Regions from separate parts of the Homo sapiens genome. Here region 2 is linked to region 1. Evidence: fine-mapped expression QTL. A gene starts in region 1. The other region holds a variant in brackets. All regions are shown on one strand. Distances are from middle to middle. Region 1 holds the start of CCNY-AS1 (CCNY antisense RNA 1). Region 2 overlaps CCNY (cyclin Y).

What was found. PIP is the estimated chance that this variant, and not a neighbour inherited with it, causes the effect. A credible set is the group of variants that fine-mapping cannot tell apart.
Region 2: its variant is the best candidate, but not a certain one, in a credible set for the expression of CCNY-AS1 in thyroid (GTEx, PIP 0.70).

Annotation. Positions count from the first base shown.
Region 1 is chr10:35,333,972-35,339,346 of GRCh38, reverse strand. It overlaps CCNY-AS1 (CCNY antisense RNA 1), which reads left to right and starts at 2,923. Exons shown (of 4, transcript NR_186477.1): 1 at 2,923-3,127; 2 at 3,271-3,419. CCNY (cyclin Y) reads right to left here and starts at 2,838. Exons shown (of 10, transcript NM_145012.6): 1 at 2,140-2,838. The coding sequence starts at 2,293. RefSeq lists a silencer at 2,473-3,212.
Region 2 is chr10:35,404,592-35,409,966 of GRCh38, reverse strand. The region is part of intron 1 of CCNY (cyclin Y); the gene reads right to left. Among named protein-coding and RNA genes, the nearest start is that of CCNY, 71 kb to the right of the region's middle. The variant T/C (reference allele first, on the strand shown) is at 2,750.

The sequences.
Region 1 (5,375 bases):
AGGTAACACTTCCAAGATTTGCCCAGCCAGCAATTCTCAGGCCTACCTGCATCTCAGAATCACCTTGGAGAGATTTAAACATATTAATGGCAATGTCCAGTACTAGATTTCTGGTTTAACTGAAACCAATGTTGAGAACTGCTGGCTGGGTCAATGCTAGAAGTATTATTTATTGAATTTGAGAGACAGAAGGTGAATTAATATTTCGGGGTTTAAACTAGCATAATCATATGAACTGGGATCTGGGATGAGAGGGCACTCCACAGCCTAGATTGGAAACCTGCCCTATACTCTCTCAAACTATCCTGAATCTGCAAAAGAGTCTTCCAAACATTCTCTCAAAAATTCCTGATGACTGAAACTTAAGATTTCTTTGAAATGAAAGAACACACAATATCATTTCACTGTACTCTGGCAAAATTGTACTGAGCCTTAGTGCCAAATACCTGGTTACACTTATTTTTTCCACCTTATTTCCTTACAATAGTCTATAATAACTGTATGCAGCCTGGCTCTAAGAAATGTAAATCTTCTTTTTTTTCTTTTTTGATCCATCATTCAAAACAAAGCCTCCGCTAGATACTGCACAACATAAAAAGGAAATTTACTGCACATCATAAAGAAGACATTATTTCCAAATGTTTTCGCCTGTCAACATAGTATAGGACTGGGTAATGGCTTTCTGTAATAAACTCATTCATTTATTCCTCCCTTTAAAGTACAATACTTACTGTTTATTATATGCTAGACTTTTCTTTCAGGTGCTAGAGGCTGTGAAAGTGATCAAGACCGATCTGGCCTTCATCCTTCTAGATGCCTTTAAATGCATAAATTTAAGAAGAAAGTATGGCTGTAGTTCAAAGACATCTAAGCGTATGTTTAAAATAATGGAAATCTAAAATAACAACACTAGACACGTCATATGGAACCATAATTTACTAAGCGCGTACTAGAAACCAGACGTTGTGTTACTCCCTTTATACATGGCACTCATTTAATAAAGATGCTCTCCTAAAAAGATTAAACTACCATTTAGAAGAAATTACACGAAGACAAACGAGAAAAATCTTTCCTTTAGCAAAGTTTAAATGTGGCCTTTCCACAGTGGAGAGAATCTTCCATCCTAAAGTGGACAGGAACGAATTATGAAGTTGTGTTCATTCATTCACACAAAAATTTCTTCATATTAGTTCAACCAGATTAACTATGAGAAGATGTTTGGGTTAAAAAAATCACCTTGTCATAAAAAGATACTTCCAATTTCAAATCTTTTCAGTTGAAAATTCTATAAACTATATTTTAAGCATGATGCATAAATATCCCTCTGTCGTTATCACTGAGCAACAGTGCTAATAAATATGTTGCCAAACCAATAAAATAAATAAAACATTACTGCGTGCAGTAATTAGTCTTAGCTTTTTTTCTTTTTGCAAACTCCAGACCAACCAAAAGTCACCTGAATAAATCAGAAATTCATAGGACTGCAATTCGGGCCCATGCAAAAACTGAGACTTAACCCAAAGGTGTCTGACAATCTTTTAAAGAGCATTCTCGGGAGAAGCTATTTGACTAATCCTGGAACCGCCACTCAAAAAAATCATTTTTTAAAAAAAACGGTAGAATGGGAACGGGGGAAGTGGAGTCCATTTGTAAGGTTCCGGGGAACTGACTCAACATGGTTCTCCAACTCGAGGTTGGAGACACCGGGATTCCAAAATGGGAATCCACTCACTTCGCTTTTATAGGACAAACGCGTGCACAACTTGGCTTCGGGCTGCATTCAGGTAGTGCCGGGAACCCCGAGCTCCCGGGCCGCCCCCACCCAGCTCTGGCCGCTCCATTAAGGACGAGGGCCGGCTCCTGTCACCTCGCGACCCACGCGCACACACCCGCCCTAGGCCCGCCGTGCTCGATGCCGCGGGCCTGCAAAGTTTCCGCGGCCGCTCACTTGGGGGTAACCAGCGAGGGGTACGCCCAGAGGCTGCGGGGCCCCGGGCGCCTAGGCTGCGCGGGCGAAGCCCCGGTTATGCACGGGTCGCCGAGACCGGCTGGGCAAGCAAGAGCAGCCGGGCCGCCCCGACGTTGGCTGTGCGACTGTTGCCGCGGGGGCGGGTAGGGGGCTCGGCGGGCCGCACTCACCGTCTATGTTCTCCCGGTCGCTGATGTGCTGCAGGTTGCAGCCCGTGTCCTCGCGGCTCAGGTCCGTGTCTGGCCGGTAGGACTCCAGCCGGGAGTGGGCATTCCTCCGGAGCTTGGGACTGGACGACACGCAGCACGAGGTAGTGTTCCCCATCTTCGGCGGCCCCCCGACTCCTGCTGCTATCCTGTTCTCCCAGTCCCCGGGAGCGGGGCGCGGGTGGACGCGGGGCGCGGGCGGCGGGGGCGTGTGGGGAGGCCCGCCCGCTCGCCGCCACGGGAGGGGGCGGAACGGCGGCCGGCCGCCGGGTCAGCAGCGGCGGCGGCGGCGGGGCCTCGCCATGGGCGGCGGCGGCGGCGGCGGCGACGAGCGGGCGACGGCCCCGGCTCCCCCTCGGCCGGCCTATCCGCGGCGGAGGAGCGCTCGGGTCCGCGCGACTGCGGCCGCCGCGCCTACCTCACCCCGCCGCGGCCATGGCGGGCGGCGCCGCGCAGGCCGCCTCCCCCCCGCGCTTCCCCAGTTGGTGTCCGCTTCCCCGGCGGCTGCGGCGACGGCGGCCGCCTCGGCAAGAGGTTCCGGTTCAAGCCGGGGGCACGCGTGTCCGCGCCGGACGGCGGGACTAGCCGACGAGCGGGCGGGCAGCGGGCGTGGGCGCAGCCCCCGGACTCCTCGCGGCGCGGTGCGGCGCGGCCAGGGAGGATGCTGGCGGCCCTCCCTCGCCAGCGGCGCCCGCCCTCGCCGCAGCCCCCGCCCCGCCCCGTCACCGCCCCTTCCCTCTGCCCTGGAAGCAGATCGGCGGCCGCGGGGAGGTTCGGGGCGGCGCAGCCCCGCGCGGTTGTGGGATCGCTCCCGGGGGCCGCTCCTCTCTCGGGCACTGGGGTCGCGGGAGACGTCGTCGGGAGCTCGGTTTCTGGAGGCCCTTCCCCACCCGGCCTCTGCCTCCTCCACTCCCCCGGGCTGGACGGAACGGGGCCCAGCGCGGGATGCGAGGTGCGTCCCCGGGGCCCGCAGCGGGCGGGAGCGCAGCCAGGGCCCGGTCGGGGACGCAGGCCCAGGGCGCTGAGGCTGCACCTGCCTCTCCGAAACCGGGCTGGCTCTTTTTGTCTTTTTATTTTTCTAATTTATTTTTTTAGAGGTATGATTTCGCTCTGTCGCCCAGGCTGGAGGGCAGTGGCGCAATCTCGGCTCACTGCAGCCTCGAACTCCTAGGCTGAAGCGATTCTCCCGCCTCAGCCTCCAAAGTAGCCGGTACTACAGGCGCGCGCCACCACGCCTGGCTAAGGTGTGTGTGTGTGTGTGTGTGTGTGTGTCTCCAAAGTAGCGAGGACTACGGGTGTGTGTGTGTGTGTGTGTCTCCAAAGTAGCGAGGACTACAGGCTCCCGCCACTACGCCAGGCTAAGGTAGGGTGTGTATGTGTGTTAACTTTTTGTAGAGATGGGATCTCCCTTTGTAACACGGGCGCCCGCCACTAAGCCAGGCTAAGGTGGTGAATGTGTGTGTGTGTGTGTGTTAACTTTTTGTAGAGATGGGATCTCGCTTCGTAACCCGGGCTGGTATCGAACTCCTGTCTTCAAGGAATCCTCCCGTCTGGACTCCTCCCATGGGATTACGGGCATGAGCCACGGCACCTGGCTATTTTTTTTTTCTAAGCATTTAAATAAGCTGGGGCTTGATTTGGGAGTTTTCTATTGTATTTTGAGCTTTGCCGAGGACTTGATAGTGACCTTGCTTTAAGCTGTGAAATAAATCTTGGGGTCCCAGAGCTATTTTAATATTGAATTCGCTGTGGAGTTGTTTTGAGTTCCTTGGAGGTTAACATGAGATAGAAAACTAAGTTAACACAACTCATCGACTGCCCTTGCTTTGCTTTGCTTTGCTTTTAGAATGCCATCGGGTTTTGTCATGTTGGGAACAAGTTAACTTAGGCCAGTTGACTAAGATCAAGGTATGTGAACATGCCTGGCTGGGAGAGAAGTAGAGTAAATGTTGGTTCGCATTCCCTCCCGACGCCCACAATGCCAGCCATCCCTGACTTTTCTTGCCTTTATTGGGAAGAATATAAGGTGGCAGAAACAAACTTCCCACCCTTTTTCCAAATATTTACTGAAGGAGTCTTGAGGAGAGTCTTGTGGGGTGGGGGGGTGGGGGTGGGAGCTGGGAATGTTTTTGAACTAGTTCTTGAAAAAAAAACTAGTACAATAGTACAACTGTCTTAATTTTATATATGAGGAAACTGAGGCCCAGAGATGAAATCATGCCTTGATTTATGCAGACCTCAGTACCTGTTCGTGACAAATCCAGTTACTAAAAGGTAAGAGAAGGAATAAGGGACTTGATATTTATCTAGCATCAGCAATGTGTGGACATCGTGTGAACGGCTTTATAAACATTTCATTTAATTCTCTACATCTAGCCATTTTTTAACCTGTGCTTTCCCTCCCTCTCAAAGTACTGTTTATACATTTATTAGTCCATATTTTAAACGCTCCATGCTCTCAACTGTATTAATGCTATTTGTTAGGATAAGTGGCAGATGTCCATGGAAAATAAGTGGCTGCAAAGTGGTAATGCTGACCAGATGAGAAAAGAAGTGTAAAAGGGAAGTTCTAAAGAATTAAAGCCCTGGAGAGGGTGGGTAGACAACAACAGTCCAAAATAGTGCTCTTCATTGAGGCTGTGTAGATTTTCCTGCTTCCTGGGAAAACTGGGGCATATTTACACTTGCATGTGTGTATTCAGATTGTCTGGGGCTATGGAGTTTGGGTCAGATTGCTGAACCCGTGGGAGAGAAGTTCCCTTGTTGTCTGTTGTTGTCTGTTCTGATTGCTGCTTTGTAATTTGGGCCACATATGAAAGTCAGCATCCAGTCATTGGACCATAGGTGTGTGGCATATCTACTCAGATGCATTAAGCTATTTTTATTTCATTATAAAATGTATAACATTTACATTCAAATTATGGTTTGAAGGGCTTAAGAGGAGAAAGAGACAGTGGCACTAAGGTGACAGCATGGCTGGCTGCATGCTTCCTGTCCAAGAAGGTCACTGGGCAGTGTTAACTGGGAAGAGCATCTGGAGGATGAGAGATCAGTGTAGCCACATACCCTTAACAAAGGGTGGTACAGCCTCTGGTCTGCCAGGATTTTTGTGCCCCGCCCCCCTCCCCCTCTTTCCCTATCTCCTCTTTGACATTTCCACCATATTCCCCTTAGGTATGTACCTGTTTGGACTTTAATTT
Region 2 (5,375 bases), 71 kb before region 1:
GTTCAAGATCAGCCTGGGCAACATAGCAAGACCCTGTCTCTACAAAAAATAAATTAGCCAGGCATGGTAACACATGTGTGTGGTCCCAGCTACTCAAGGTGGGAGGACTGCTTGAGCCTAGGAGTTCATGGCTGCAGTGTGCCGTGATCATGCTACTGCACTCCAGCCTGGGCAACAAAGCAAGACCCTGTCTCAACAAAATAAAACAAAACAATCACAGATTGCTTTTTTCACATAGGGGCAGGAAATCTTTACATTTTTACTTATTTTTGTTTTAACGCAAGCTCTTTGGAGTGTTTCCTATACTGTCTCTCACACATGGGAATTATCTGTAAATCACGGTTTAAATTAAGGTTTTCTTTTTAATTTTAGAATTGCATTTTTCTTTTCCCTCTCTGTTCCTCAGCCTCTCATCACTATGCCCAGACCTCCAGAGAGCACGCCTCCAGTCTTTTTTCTGTTCACAGCTGTTATTTCCCAGCTGCCTACAGTCACTTCACAATGACTCACACTTCTTGAAGTATTGGCCCTAACACAGATGCCCAGACAGCAGCTGCAGTGGCAGCACACCCTCACCACAGCTGGTACCCACACTGAACTTAGTGTGGGAGACTCTCCCAGGAACAGGATCTGAAAAAGGGCAGCAAAGGCTTTTAAGCTGTAACTGTTCTGACCTGGGCACACCCCAGCAAGTTCACTGGCTTGCAACTTGATTCCAATGGGATGACAATGGCAGATGCGAGACCTGCCTGGTAAGGCAGCTGGCAAGGCAGCTGGCCACACTGTACCACAGTCCCCAGCTTGGATTAGGATCAGGAGCTTGACAACTCCTGGTTGCAATACACAATCTAACAGCCATTGGAGGAAAAAAAAGGCCTCCTTAATGTACTTCATTTCTTTGCCCAGTAATAAGCTATTACATAGGGTAAATCTGATTTCTGCTTTCATCTTTGCATTGGGTCAAGACAAAATAACTCTTTTTGTTTTTCTTCATAACTAGAATGAAAAAAAAAAAACAAAAACAAGAATTGAGCAGGGTAATGGGAGGAAAGAACAAAGTAGAGGCATTTATGATGAAATAATACAGTTTGTCTACTTGAATCCATTTCTAGCGTAAACCTCTGCTTACCCCATCTTCAACATTCTCCAGTAAAGCTAGAAATTTTTTTGTTCTTTTTCTCTTCTGATAACTTTCCCTCAACCCATCATATTACTGTCAGGCCTCTGAGCCCAAGCTAAGCCATCATATTCCCAGTGACCTGCACGTATACATCCAGATGGCCTGAAGCAACTAAAGATCCACAAAAGAAGTGAAAAGAGCCTTAACTGATGATATTCTACCATTGTGATTTGTTTCTGCCCTACCCTAACTGATCAATATACTTTGTAATCTCCCCCACCCTTAAGAAGGTTCTTCATAATCTCCCCCACCCTTAAGAAGGTTCTTTGTAATTCTCCCCGCCCTTGAGAATGTGCGAGATCCACCCCCTGCCCCCAAAACATTGCTCTTAACTCCACTGCCTATCCCAAAACCTGTAAGAACTAATGATAATCCCACCACCCTTTGCTGACTCTCTTTTCTGACTCAGCCTGCCGGCACCCAGGTGAAATAAACAGCCTTGTTGCTCACACAAAGCCTGTTTTGTGGTCTCTTCACATGCACATGTGAGACATTTGGTGCCGAAGACCCAGGTCAGCGGGACTCCTTCGGGAGACCAGTCCCCTGTCCTCACCCTCACTCCGTGAAGAGATCCACCTATGACCTCAGGTCCTCAGACTAACCAGCCCAAGGAACATCTCCCCAATTTTAGATCAGGTAAGCAGCCTCTTTTTACTCTCTTCTCCAACCTCTCTCACTATCCCTCAACCTCTTTCTCCTTTTAATCTTGGCGCCACCCTTCAATCTCTCCCTTCTCTTAATTTCAACTCCTTTCATTTTCTGGTGGAGACAAAGGAGACATATTTTATCCATTGACCCAAAACTCCAGCGCCAGTCACGGACTCGGGAAGGCAGACTTCCCTTGGTGTTTAATCATTGCGAGGACGCCTCTCTGATTATTCACCCACGTTCCACTGGTGTCTGATCTCCGTGGGGACGTCTGCCTTGGTCATTCATCCACATTCCCTTGGTGGCAAGTCAAGTGCGGAGACGCCTGCTTTGGCTGCTCCCCACCCCCCTTCTCCGTGTCTCTACCCTTCTCTTTAAACTTGCCTCCTTCACTATGGGCAACCTTCCACCCTCCACTCCTCCTTCTTCTCCCTTAGCCTGTGTTCTCAAGAACTTAAAACCTCTTCAACTCTCACCTGACCTAAAATCTAAGCGTCTTATTTTCTTCTGCAATGCCGCTTGACCCCAATACAAACTCGACAGTGGTTCCAAATAGCCAGAAAACGGCACTTTCGATTTTTCCATCCTACAAGATCTAAATAATTCTTGTCGTAAAATGGGCAAACGGTCTGAGGTGCCTGATGTCCAGGCATTCTTTTACACACTGGTCCCTCCCTAGTCTCTGCTCCCAATGAGAGTCGTCCCAAATCTTTCTTCTTTCTCTCCTGTCTGTTCCTTCAGTCCTAACCCCAAGCGTCTCTGAGTCTTTTGAATCTTCCTTTTCTAGGGACCCATCTGACCTCTCTCCCCTCCTCCCCAGGCTGCTCCTTGCCAGGCCAAGCCAGGTCCCAATTCTTCCTCAGCCTCTGCTTCCCCACCCTATAATCCTTCTATCACCTCCCTTCCCCACACCCAGTCTGG[T/C]TTACAGTTTCGTTCCATGACTAGCCCTCCCCGACCTGCCCAACAATTTCCTCTTAAAGAGGTGGCTGGAGCTAAAGGCATAATCAAGGTTAATGCTCCTTTTTTCTTTATCTGACCTCTCCCAAATCAGTTAGCATTTAGGTTCTTTTTCATCAAATACAAAAACTCAACCCAATTCAAGGCCTGTTTGACAACAACCCTTAGACGCTTTACCACCCTAGACCCAGAGGGGCCAGAAGGCTGCCTTATTTTCAATATGCATTTTATTACCCAATCCGCTCCCGACATTAGAAAAAGCTCCAAAAAGCCCCTCTGCCTGGCCGGCCGCCCCGACGGGGACGGAGGTGGGGGGGGGTCAGCCCCCCGCCCGGCCAGCCGCCCCATCCGGGAGGTGAGGGGCGCCTCTGCCTGGCCGCCCCTACTGGGAAGTGAGGAGCCCCTCTGCCCGGCCACCACCCCGTCTGGGAGGTGCGCCCAACAGCTCATTGAGAACAGGCCATGATGACAGTGGCAGTTTTGTGGAATAGAAAGGGGGGAAAGGTGGGGAAAAGACTGAGAAATCGGATGGTTGCCGTGTCTGTGTAGAAAGAGGTAGACATGGGAGACTTTTCATTTTGTTCTGTACTAAGAAAAGTTCTTCTGCCTTGGGATCCTGTTGATCTGTGACCTTACCCCCAACCCTGTGCTCTCTGAAACATGTGCTGTGTCCACTCAGGGTTAAATGGATTAAGGGCGGTGCAAGATGTGCTTTGTTAAACAGACGCTTGAAGGCAGCATGCTCGTTGAGAGTCATCACCACTCCCTAGTCTCAAGTGCCCAGGGACACAAACACTGCGGAAGGCCACAGGGTCCTCTGCCTAGGAAAACCAGAGACCTTTGTTCACTTGTTTGTCTGCTGACCTTCCCTCCACTATTGTCCTGTGACCCTGCCAAATCCCCCTCTACAAGAAACACCCAAGAATGATCAATAAAAAAATAAATAAATAAATAAATAAATAAATAAATAAATAAATAAAATAAAAAAGAAAAAAAAAAAGAAAAAGCTCCAAAAATTAGACTCTGGCCCTCAAACCCCACAACAGGACTTAATTAACCTCGCTTTCAAGGTGTACAGTAATAGAGTAATGGCAGCCAAGTAGCAATGTATTTCTGAGGTGCAATTCCTTGCCTCCACTGTGAGACAAACCCCAGCCACATCTCCAGCACACAAGAACTCCAAACGCCTGAACCACAGTTGCCAGGGGTTCCTCTAGAACTTCCTCCCCCAGGATCTTGCTTCAAGTGCCGGAAATCTGGCCACTGGGCCAAGGAATGCCCGCAGCCCGGGATTCCTCCTAAACCGTGTCCCATCTGTGCAGGACCCCACTGGAAACTGGACTGTCCAACTGGCCCAAGGCTCTGATTGACTCCTTCCCAGATCTTCTCGGCTTAGTGGCTGAAGACTGACACTGCCCAATAGCCTCGGAAGCCCCCTGGACCATGATGGAGGCCAAGCTTCGGGTAACTCTTACAGTGGAGGGTAAATCCGTCCCCTTCTTAATCATTATGGAGGCTACTCACTCCACATTACCTTATTTTCAAGGGCCTGTTTCCCTTGCCTCCATAACTGTTGTGGGTATTGACGGCCAGGCTTCTAAACCCCTTAAAACTCCCCAATTCTGGTGCCAACTTGGACAATATTCTTTTATGCACTCCTTTTTAGTTATCCCCACCTGCCCGGCTCCCTTATTAGGTCGAGACTTTTAACTACATTATCTGCTTCCCTGATTATTCCTGGGCTACAGCTGTACCTCACTGCCACCTTTTGCCCCAGTTCAAAGCCTCCTTCACATCCTCTCCTTGTATCTCCCCTTCTTAGTCCACAAGCATAGGACACCTCTACTCCCTCCTTGACAACAAATGATGCACCCTTTACCATCCCATTAAAACCTAATCACCCTTATCCTGCTCAATGCCAATATCCCATCCCACAGCATGCTTTAAAAGGATTAAAACCTGTTGTCACTTGCCTGTTACAGCATGGCCTTTTAAAGCCTGTAAACTCTCCTTACAATTCCCCTGTTTTACCTGTCCAAAAACCAGACAAGGCTTTTACAGGTTAGTTCAGGATCTGCACCTTATCAACTAAATTGTCTTGCCTATCCACCCAGTGGTGCCAAAGTCATATACTCTCCTATCCTCAATACCTCCCTCCACAACCCCTCCATAACTCATTATTCTGTTCTGGATCTCAAACATGCTTTCTTTACTATTCCTTTGCACCCTTCATACCAGCCTCTCTTCGCTTTCACTTGGACTGACCCTGATACCCATCAGGCTCAGCAAATTACCTGGGCTGTACTGCTGCAAGGCTTCGTGGACAGCCCCTACTACTTCAGTCAAGCCCAAATTTCTTCCTCATCCATTACCTATCTTGACATATTTCTTCATTAAAACATACGTGTTCTCCCTGCTGATTGTGTCCAACTAATCTCCCAAACCCCAACCCCTTCCACAAAACAACAACTCCTTTCCTTCCTGGGCATGTTTGGATACTTTCACCTTTAGATAGCCTCGGAAGCCCCCTGGACCATCACGGATGCCAAGCTTTGGGTAACTCTTACAGTGGAAGGTAAATCCGTCCCCT